2 separate regions of the Homo sapiens genome follow, and region 1 is linked to region 2. Evidence: fine-mapped expression QTL. Tissue or cell type: lung. Region 2 holds a variant in brackets; the other region holds the start of a gene. All regions are shown on one strand. Distances are from middle to middle.

Evidence for each region. PIP is the estimated chance that this variant, and not a neighbour inherited with it, causes the effect.
Region 1: it holds the start of RAB35-AS1, and the variant in region 2 is fine-mapped to the expression of RAB35-AS1 in lung (TOPMed, PIP above 0.99).

The regions. Positions count from the first base shown.
Region 1 is chr12:120,114,746-120,119,969 of GRCh38, forward strand. RAB35-AS1 (RAB35 antisense RNA 1) reads left to right here and starts at 2,162. Exons shown (of 1, transcript NR_182302.1): 1 at 2,162-4,258. It overlaps RAB35 (RAB35, member RAS oncogene family), which reads right to left and starts at 2,008. Exons shown (of 6, transcript NM_006861.7): 1 at 1,854-2,008. The coding sequence starts at 1,905. RefSeq lists enhancers at 1,199-1,991, 1,992-2,783, 3,576-4,367, 3,787-3,886, 3,917-3,986 and 2 more and silencers at 1,709-1,838, 1,939-2,248, 2,409-2,758, 2,849-2,908, 2,896-3,074.
Region 2 is chr12:119,974,014-119,979,237 of GRCh38, forward strand. LOC112268087 (a long non-coding RNA gene) reads left to right here. Exons shown (of 4, transcript XR_002957391.2): 4 at 1,005-1,184. Among named protein-coding and RNA genes, the nearest start is that of BICDL1, 13 kb to the right of the region's middle. The variant G/A (reference allele first, on the strand shown) is at 2,796.

The DNA.
Region 1 (5,224 bases), 140 kb after region 2:
TGTACTGTGAGAAAGCGGGCCAAACCCATCCCCTGGGCTTTACAGAGGAGAAGAGCCAACAAGCTGCATCTTCCTGCTGAGTTTAGGCTTTTCACTGTTGGATATCAACGCAGAGGTCCAGATGTCTTGCAGAGGGATAAAGGCTCCTGACCACGGCGGGCTGTCACTCCAAAAAGAGAGAAATGGCCCCAGTGCCAGTCCCTCAGAACCCAGGCCAGGGCTGCAAGGAAATCATGTAAAGGAAGAAGCCTCAAGACCCTGAAGAATACCAAAGGCCATCTCCAAGAGAACACTCCAGAGCTTGCCTGGTTTCCCTTCATTCAAACCATAACCAGTCAGTACTCCACCTTTCTACCTCCTTCCCCAACCTCAGTTACTCTTCCATCTCCCTGGTTAGCCCCCAGCTTTCCCCCTTACCTCTCCCCTCCTCCAGCAACCACGGAAACCTCAGCCATCCTTCACCTGATCCAAACCACCAACCACATCTCCATCCAGCTTTAAAAGGGAGGCCAAAACCACCCACTTCCCTGACCTAGCTCTGACATCGCTACCCAACACTCCTACATCCCAAGTCATACCGCTCACTTGATTTGATCCCCTTTCCTTAACAGTCCATGGGCTCTACCACCAGCCTGGCCTCTGCCTCCAATCATAAGACATCCCTCCCCACACTCAGCTCAGGTCTGGTCTACAAACTGAGCATGCTCCCAAGACTCTTTCATGAACATCATATAACCCCAGCACCTCAGTTTCGCTCCCATAAACCTTCTGGGGCCTGCCTTCCTGACCTCTTGGTCACTCCATAAACCTGCTCACCTGCCACACTCCAAACAGCTCTAAAACCCTCCACCTTTTCCCAGAAACCAGTCTACCTTTTCGAAGGACACTTAATATTCATTAATTCCTTCTGCAAATATGTCTTAAGCATGTACTGGGTGCCAGGCACTGTTCTAGGCACTGGAGCTAGAGCAGTGATCAGAGCTAGGAGCCCTCAAGCAGTGTGTGTGTGTGGCCAAAGCACTTTTATAATTTTGGCTGTCCCATCCCCAGGACCCCTCTGTATATAGTAGTGTAACAGCAAACAGTGACAACTCACTATGTGCCAGGAGCTGTGAGCAACACTGCAGAATCTCACTTAATACTCACATCAACCCCATAAGGCAGATCCAACTATCATTCCATCTTACAGATGAGGAAACTGAACCACGCAGGGATATAATAATTCAGCAGGAATATGCCAGACCCTGTGCAAAGCCCTTTATCCGACTTACCTCATTTAAACCTCACGGCAATCCCATGAGGCAGGTTCTGAGAACGTCCTCATTTTAGATGGGAAGAAACTGACGCTTATAAAGGATACTGATGATAATGACAATAGTGAACATTTACTTCGAGCTTACTTTACCGGGTAGGGCGCTACGCACTTTTCCTACTTTATCCCATCGAATCCTCACACCACCCAGCAAGGCACATCCCCACTTCTCAGATGAGGGAACTGAGGCTCAGGACGGCGAAGCAACTTGCCCAAGGTCAGCGCGAGGCAGGTGGTAGTCCTGAGACTCGAACCCACGTCTCTCCAACTCCAGAGATCGCGCGACTTGACCAAGGTCACACGTGAGGCAGGAACAGGCGCGATGACTGGACCCGGCGCGCTTGGCCCCTCCGCCCCGCGCCCCAACCTCCCCTCGGCGCGGTCCGGAGCCCCTCGGCGCACCCCTGGGGCCCAGACCGCCGGGCTGCCCCGCCCGCCCGCCCCGCACGGGCCGGCACCTCCCCGCCCGCCTGCCGCCCCGAGGCCCCCGCGGGCCGCGCCCGGCAGGGCCCGCGCCGCCTCCGGCCGCTGCGGCCCTCACCGCTGTCGCCGATGATGAGCAGCTTGAAGAGGTGGTCGTAGTCCCGGGCCATGGCGGGCGGGGGCGGTGCGCGCGGGCGGGCGGGGTCGGTACTGGCCTCGCGATCCGCAGCTCCCTTCGGGCTGCTCCGGCAGCGGCGGATCCACTTCCCGAACAAACAGCCGGAACTGACAGAAACACCTCCCTCCGCTCCCCCTCCTCCTCCTCAGCAGCCGCCGCCGCTACCACCGCCTCCCTCCTTCCCGCCCCGCCCCACCACTGCGCAGGCGCAGCGTCTGGCACCGCCTTGCGCAGCCGCAGCCTGAGCCGGCCGCGCCCGGGTCGCGCACGCGCCCTGACGGAGTCCCAGCAAGCGCGGGCCCGTCTTCCTCGCGTCTCCTCGGGGAGCGTCGTCGCCGCCACCCTGGGCGCTGAGAGCTTGCGGAGCCGAGCCGCTGTCGAGTCCCAGCGGAAAGAAGCCCAAGGTGCCGGAGAAGCCCGGTCGTGGACGTTGTTGCTCCCTCATCTTCGAGACCCGCACGCCCTGCGGAGAGGAAATGACAGGCACGCCGCGACCGTGGGGCGGGGCTCGCACGAGCTCCGGGTTTCCAGAGGCAGGGGCCGGGGCCGTAGAAGGCAGAGTCGCGCGGGGAAGGCCCGGTACCCCGCCCCTTCCGCACCGACCCCTCCCCCGCGGAGCTGGCCCCGGCCCCGGGCCTGTGGAGTGGACGCCGAGGGCGGCGGGCGGCTTCCGAGTTGGACAGAACGGGAGCTGCCGGCGGGAGCAGAGCTGCGAGGAGGTGGCCTTTGAGGGCAGCGCGGGGTCGAAATCCCATCCCAGCGCTGTGACCTCTTGGAGCCCACATTGCCTCTTTGGTGGAGGGGAGGGAGTGGTCCAGCTCCGAGCCGAGCCTGGGAGCTGAATGACCCAGTGTGCAAGGCGCACCTCGGAGACCGAAAGCAACCGCTCCCCCGGCTTCAATTTCACACCACCTGCAGATACACGTCTCAGAATCTGCGGCTAGGAAGACCTGGGCCGCCAGAAGCTAAACGTGTGCATTTTGTCATCAGCCCCGGTTTCTCGTTTTAGAGTGAGTTCCCACCTGCCCTACCTAAACTGACCTGAAACGGAAAGTTGTATGCCCCCACGACCATCCTCACTGCAGAACTGCAGAGGGTTTTAAGCTCCTTATTACCTGTTTCTTATAATCCTGTCCCTTTCCAGGCGAGTATTTATCGGATAGTTCTACTTGTTTTATCAAACTTCCTTTTCTTTTGACTTTATAAAAAGCAATGCCGGGAGGCTGAGGCGGGAGAATCGCTTGAACCCGGGAGGCGGAGGTTGCAGTGAGCTGAGATCTCGCCATTGCACTCCATTCTGGGCAACAAGAGCGAAACTCCGTCTCAAAAAAAAAAAACAATGTTCGTCCTTAAAATTATGTGCAGAAGTTTACTGAAAAGTACAAGTTACTATTTTTCCTTCTGAAGCACTCCTCACAGGTAACCCCTGTTAGTTTCACAGGTAACCTTAAAATGCTTAACACATATTTGTTGAATGAATAAGTGCCCCCCAGTGAATTTCCTTTGCCTGTACAAACATATATGTACATACCTTGCTTTTTCTATTTAACAGTACACTTTTATCATTTAACATCTGCGTGGTATGGTACTCCATCCGATAACCATCGGATGTACTATTATTTAACCACTCCGCTATTAATAGACATTCATGCTGTTTATATTTTTTGGTTATAATAAACATTGTTGCAGGCGGGATCATTGAACAACACATGGAGTGTCTGACTCAAGCCTTGAGTTGTTTTTCCGGGAGCTGAGAATCAGTGTGGTGATATCGAAATAACATGAGCTTGGAATCTGAAGGTACTGGCTAGGGAGAAGAGCTGCTCATGTGCTCCCGATAGAAAGTCCCCCTTGGTCGGGAAGGTTAGGGCCATCCTCTGACTCAGCAGTTTTAGGAAATAGAGGGGGAGAAGGAAGGTATGTACCTTCCTTCCACCAGGGAGGCACGCCCAGCCCTAACCAGCCAGCGAGGCAGTAGGTCCTCCTAGCTCATCTTCACAACCTGGGCTGGTGTCGGGAAGACTTTCGTTCCAATGCTAGCTTTGGAATCCTGGCCTCCATCCCTTAAAAGCTTTGTGATCTTAGGTAAGTCACATCACACTATCTCAAAGCCCCCGTTTCCTCACAGAATGGTTGTTTTAGAGTTATGTTTGTAAATTACCTGGCACATGTAGGCATGTGACAGACTGTAACCAATGTTACTCAAGGTCATTTTGCACTGATTCATACTTTGAGCCATTTCCTACTGTAGACTCTAGCACACATTTTCAAGGCAGCTTCCTGATAATAAGGCTGTAGGATATTTTTGGGAAATAAATCCAAATTGGCCATTAAAACCAGATTCCTGACTTTGCCTGCATGTGTCATCTGGAAAGCAATCGGCATAAATTCCTTCATTTCTTTGGTAACTATTTAATGAGTGTTTATGTGCCACGGATTGCAGAGGTTATAAGAAGAGAGCCTTAGGCCGGGCGCTGTGGCTCACACCCATAATCCCAGCACTTTGGGAGGCTGAGGCGGGAGGATCACGAGGTCAGGAGTTCAAGACCAGCCTGGCCAAGATGGTGAAACCCCATCTCTACTAAAAATAAAAAAAATTAGCCGGGCACGATGGCAGGCGCCGGTAATCCCAGCTACTCGGGAGGCTAAGGCAGGAGAATCGCTTGAACCCGGGTGGCAGAGGTTGCCGAGATTGCACCACTGCACTCCAGCCTAGGCGACAGAGCAAGACTCCGTCTTAAAAAAAAAAAAAAAAAAAAAGGAACAGAGCCTTTTCTCACCAGTTCACAGCCTCATCAAGAGTTAAGACATACTCATGAGGAAATTGAAAGTATAAGACAATACAGTAGATAGAAAAGCTGTCAGATATGCAGTCTAGACTTCAGAGGAGGAAAGCTATAGCTTTTAGTTAGAATGATGGGGAGAAGATTTTATCATAAAGATGTCATGATGGCACTGGAATAGGAGAGCTTTGAGTGTCTATTTAGACAGTCCCTGTCACAGTCTATGAGAATCATCATTTGGCTTGGAGGGGAATTCCCTGCAGGCCAGGGTATGTGCCTGGCATCTCAAAATGAATCAGCACATTTTCTTCTGGAAACATTGTTAGACATTTATTTAAACTACAGTTCAGTGATGAGTTATGTTAAGCTTTCTTTCTCCTTCTCACTGTATACATATGTAAACTTGTGTGACCTAAAGGATCAGTGTGTCCAGTAATGGGAAACTTTGTTCCACTGCTCTGAACAGCTAACTTACAGATGAACTTTTGCAACACCACCTGTTTGCACATTAGAAACTATTAATACGAT
Region 2 (5,224 bases):
GGAAGGGAAAGAAAGAAGGGGGAAAATAAAAAAGGCCAGGCGCGGTGGCTCACGCCTGTAATTCCAGCACTTTGGGAGTTCGAGGCAGGCAGATCATGAGGTCAGGAGTTCGAAACCAGCCTGGCCAACATGGTGAAACCCCGTCTCTACCAAAAATACAAAAAAATTAGCTGGACATAGTGGTGCGCGCCTGTAATCCCAGCTACTCGGGAGGCTGAGGCAGGAGAATCACTGAACCTGGGAGGCAGAGGTTGCAGTGAGCTGAGATCAGGCCACTGCACTCCAGTCTGGGCGACAGAGCAAGACTCCGTCTCAGAAAAAAAAAAAAAAAAAAAAAAAAAAAAAGCTTCTCTATGATGACTTATGCCTTTTGTTTTTTGTTTTCAAACCTGAGCTGTTTTCACAAGGCCAATACATCAGCTCCTATATTTGCCCTCATATTGTAGTGTAACCGGTTTGTCCTGTTGAATTTCATCCAGTATGAGACTCCCTATTTTTTTTTTTTTTTGAGGCGGAGTTTATTCTGTCACCCAGGCTGGAGTGCAGTGGCGCGATCTCAGCTCACTGCAACCTCTGCCTCCCGGGTTCCAGTGATTCTCCTTCCTCAGTCTCCCAAGCACCAGGGACTAGGGACTACAGGCGTGCGCCACCACACTCAGCTGATTTTTGTATTTTTAGTAGAGACAGGGTTTCACCATATTGGCCAGGCTGGTGTCGAACTCCTGACCTCGTGATCCACCCGCCTCGGCCTCCCAAAGTCCTAGGATTACAGGCGTCAGCCACCACGCCCTGCCTGAGACTCCCTATTATATGGTGTCATTGTATCAGCTATACCATAGAAATGTGCAACACGGAACACAGCATCTCAAAAATACAAACAACATTGTTACTACTTGCCAATTAAAAGAACAGACTTTCAATCAAGTTTCATGGTTGATAAACAAAGCAATTGGATATTGGGTTGACATTAACTTTGACAATTTTAACATACTTGTTTTTTTTAGATCTGCAAGAAATACATCTACCAGCTGGGTGCAGTTGAACAAAATCATTACAGGATTAGCAGTTTTCTGACCCACTTACTAAAAAGAAGCTGAATCACTGAATTGAGACCCCAGGGAAATGCAGATTTATACCTTTGATGTATTTCTTGATTTTTCTTAAATTAAATTCTATAATCAGTTTTTGAGTCTTTGCCATCTATCTTTTAATTGGGTGATTTCATATGTCTTCTTGAATATAAGCCTTTTCAAAGTTTTGATTTTCTGTAAATGCAAATGCATAATAAAACATACATATAGCTTTGTTCTATGCAATTATTTTCTAAACCCATCAGGAAGGCCTGCTTCTTTCCATCATCCCTTCCTTTATTAGATAGGGAGTGGGTGGGAGAAGTTGGCTGTCAGGAAAAGGAGTCCCATGCACTTTGATGTAGATGGGAGTTGAGGAAAATGGGGAAATGGTCACTTGATCCACAGGCACAGAACCCTGTTCAGTTCCCTGTCCCACTGCCAGATCTACCCCAATGGTTTTCCAAACATGGGACGATCTTCCTCCTCCTGTCAAGTGTTCTCATTTCTTCTCCTGCATCAATTGTAGTTTTCTCTAGGATGCTTTCTGCTGGATGAGGAAGAACTTTGCATTTTCAATCCCACTGATACATTTGTCATCAACTCACTCTTTTTTTGTTTGTTTTGTTTTGTTTTGTTGAGACAGGGTCTCATTCTGTCACCCAGGCAGGAGTGCAGTGGTGCAATCTCTGCTCACTGCAGCCTCAACCTCCTGGGCTCAAATGATCTTCCCACCTCAGCTTCTCAAAGTACTGGGATTACAGGCATGAGCCACCGTGTCTGTGTGAACAACTCGCTCTCATCATTGCTATGTATATTGATTTCACGCTTGCCTTTTTCCCTATATAGGTGAGAGGTCCTTGGCCATAGCCAAATCAAAGGGCCTAATTATCTGATTCTTGCTATTTTTCCAGTTTTCCTGTTTCTGGCAAGACACCATCATTCTGTTTGTTGTCCACATTGGTAACCTCAGAGGCATCTCTGAATCCTCCTTTTTCTTCATTCTCACTCTCTAATAGCTGATCAGACTCCAAATTTAGCAATTATTTCTCTTGTTTATAACATCTCTGACCTCTGTCTTCCATTCCATCAGAACTTCCATATAGATTCTTCCAGCAGTATTGTAATTGTTCTCCCCGACTCCTGACTCTCACCTTGAATCTATCTTTCACACCAGTGCCAGGTTAGTCTTCCTGAAGTACAGATTTATTCAGATTTCCTCACAGTTTCAACATGTCCAGTGGCTCCCCATTGTATCTAGCACTGTCTCCCTTCTCTGAATTTTTTATTATTTATTTATTTATTTATTTATTTTGAGAAAGGGTCTCACTCTGTCTTCCAGGCTGGGATTGCAGTGACACGATCTCAGCTCATGGCAACCTCCACCTCCCAGGCTCAAGCATTCCTCCCATCTCAGCCTCCTGTATAGCTGAGCTTACAGGCACATGCCACACGCCCAACTAACTTTTGTATTTTTTGTATAGACAGGGTTTCACAGGCCGGGCGTGGCGGCTCATGCCTGTAATCCCAGCACTTCGGAAGGCCAAGGCAGGTGGATCACTTGAGGTCAGGAGTTCAAGACCAACCTGGCCAACATGGTGAAACTCCATCTCTACTAAAAATACAAAAATTAGCCGGGCATAGTGGCATGCACCTGTAATCCCAGCTACTAAGGAGGTTGAGGCAAGAGAATGGCTTGAACTTGGGAAGTAGAGTTTGAAGTGA[G/A]CCAAGATTGCACCACTGCACTCCAGCCTGGGTGACAGAGTGAGACTCTCTCAAAAAATAAAGAGATAAATAAATAAATAAGACATGAGGTGTTGCCCTCTTGCCCACGCTGGTCTTGAACTCCTGGACTCAAGCAATCCTCCTGCCTCAGCCTCCCAAAGTGCTGGGATTACAAGCATGAACCATTGCACCCAGTCCTGTTTATGTTTTTTTTCTTCTTCTTCTTTCTTTTTGAGACAGGGTCTCATTCTGGAGTGCAGTGGCGTGATCTCGACTCACTGCAGCCTTTGCCTCCAGGGCTCAAGCGATCCTCCTGCCTCAGCCTCCAAGTAGCTGGGACTACAGGTGTGCACCACCATGGCCAACTAATTCTGGTTTATGTTTTCTATTGTTTATTAAGTTATAAACATTTTGAGGGTAAGGATCACAGCGTATACATATATGTTTCCCCCACATAATCTCCAACTTATCACATGATAGCCTCTATGCGATAAATGTTTTGTATGAGTATAGAGGTTAACACAAACCATGTGGACCATATTAATATGTAACAAATCTGGTATTCTGAGATCAAGAGTTTTTGTTGGTTTTTTGTCTTTAACATCTTATTGAGTAAACTCTGACTGTGTCTTAGCAATGTACTAAGTGCTTTAGACACATTATTCGTTCATTATAAAAATGTATCAAGTTCCTACAAGCCTGGAAAACATGGTGAACCCCATCTCTACTAAAAATACAAAAATTAGCTGGGTGTGATGGCGCCTGTCTCTAGTACCAGCTACTCAAGAGGCTGAGGTGGGGAGCATTGCTTGAGCCTGGTAGGCAGAGGTTGCAGCAAACAATGATTGTGTCACTGCACTCCAGCCTAGATGGCAGAGTAAGACTCTATCTCAAAAAAAAAAGTATCAAGTTCCTATCATATGTTAGGAACTGTGCTGGGCCTTAAGACCCACTAGTAACAAAATTATTTACTTACATAGTGCATAGAAAGGTTAACTAACTTTCCTAGGGTTATTTTGGCTAGTAACTGAGGGAGCCTTGACTTGAAACCAGAGCTTACTCTAGAAACCATGTTCTTAACCACTATATTAAATTTCCTGTGGTGTGAATTATGGACATGCCTTGGTGACGCCATGTCCATTTTTTTTTTTTTTTTTTTTTTGAGACAGAGTCTCGCTCTGTCACCCAGGCTGGAGTGCAGTGGCATGGTCTTGGCTCACTGCAACATCCACCTCCTGGATTCAAACAATTCTCCTGCCTCAGCCTCCCGAGTAGCTGGGACTACAGGAGCCTGCCACCATGCCCGGCTAATATTTTGTATTTTCAGTAGACACAGGGTTTCACCGTGTTAGAGAGGATGATCTCAATCTCCTGACCTCGTGATCCGCCTGCCTCGGCCTCCCAAAGTGAGCCACCGCGCTCGGCCCACACTCTTACACAAACACTGATGGAATACTCCTTGAGGATGAGAATCACGTTTTCTAAATTTTTTTTTTTTTTTTTTGAGATGGAAACTCACTCTGTCACCCAGGCAGGAATGCAGTGGCGTGATCTTGGCTCACTGCAACCTCCACCTCCCAGGCTCAAGTGATTCTCCTGCCTCAGCCTCCCGAATAGCTGGGACTACAGTCATGAGCCACCACGCTTGGCTAATTTTTGTATTTTTTGTAAAGACGAGTTTCACCATGTTGACCAGGCTGGTCTCGAACTCCTGACCTCAAGTGATCTGCCTGCCTTGGCCTCCCAAAGTGCTGAGATACAGGCATGAGCCACCATGCCTGATATGTTTTCTAAAATTTTCTAAAATCCTGAAATTCTCATATAATGAGATAATAATACCAAACGCACACCAACCGTCAATTGTGTCTCAATAAATACTGGCCAACTGCCTTGGTAACTATATAATTCAATAGATTTCCTTATAGTTTAGAAACTTTAAAAAATTATTTTGCTGGCTGGGTGTGGTGGCTCATGCCTGTAATCCCAGCACTTTGGGAGGCCAAAGTGGGAAGATTGCTTGAAGCCAGTCATTTGGGACCTGCCTGGTCAACATAGCGAGACCCTGTCTCTACAAAAAATATTTTAAAATTAACTGGGCATGGTGGCACATGCTTGCAGTTTTAGCTTCCTGGGAGGCTAAGGCAGGAGGATTGGTTGAGCCAACGAGTTCGCAGCTGCAGAGAGCTACGATTATGCTACTACACTCCAGCCTGGGCAACAGAGCAAGACCCTGTCTCTAAAAAATATAAGTGTAGGCCAGGCGCGGTGGCTCACACCTGTAATCCCAGCACTTTGGGAGGCCGAGGCAGGCAGATCACGAGGTCAGGAGATCAAGACCAACCTGGCCAACATGGTGAAACCCTGTCTTTACTAAAAATACAAAAAATTAGCCAGGTGTGGTGGCACACACCTGTAGTCCCAGCTACTCG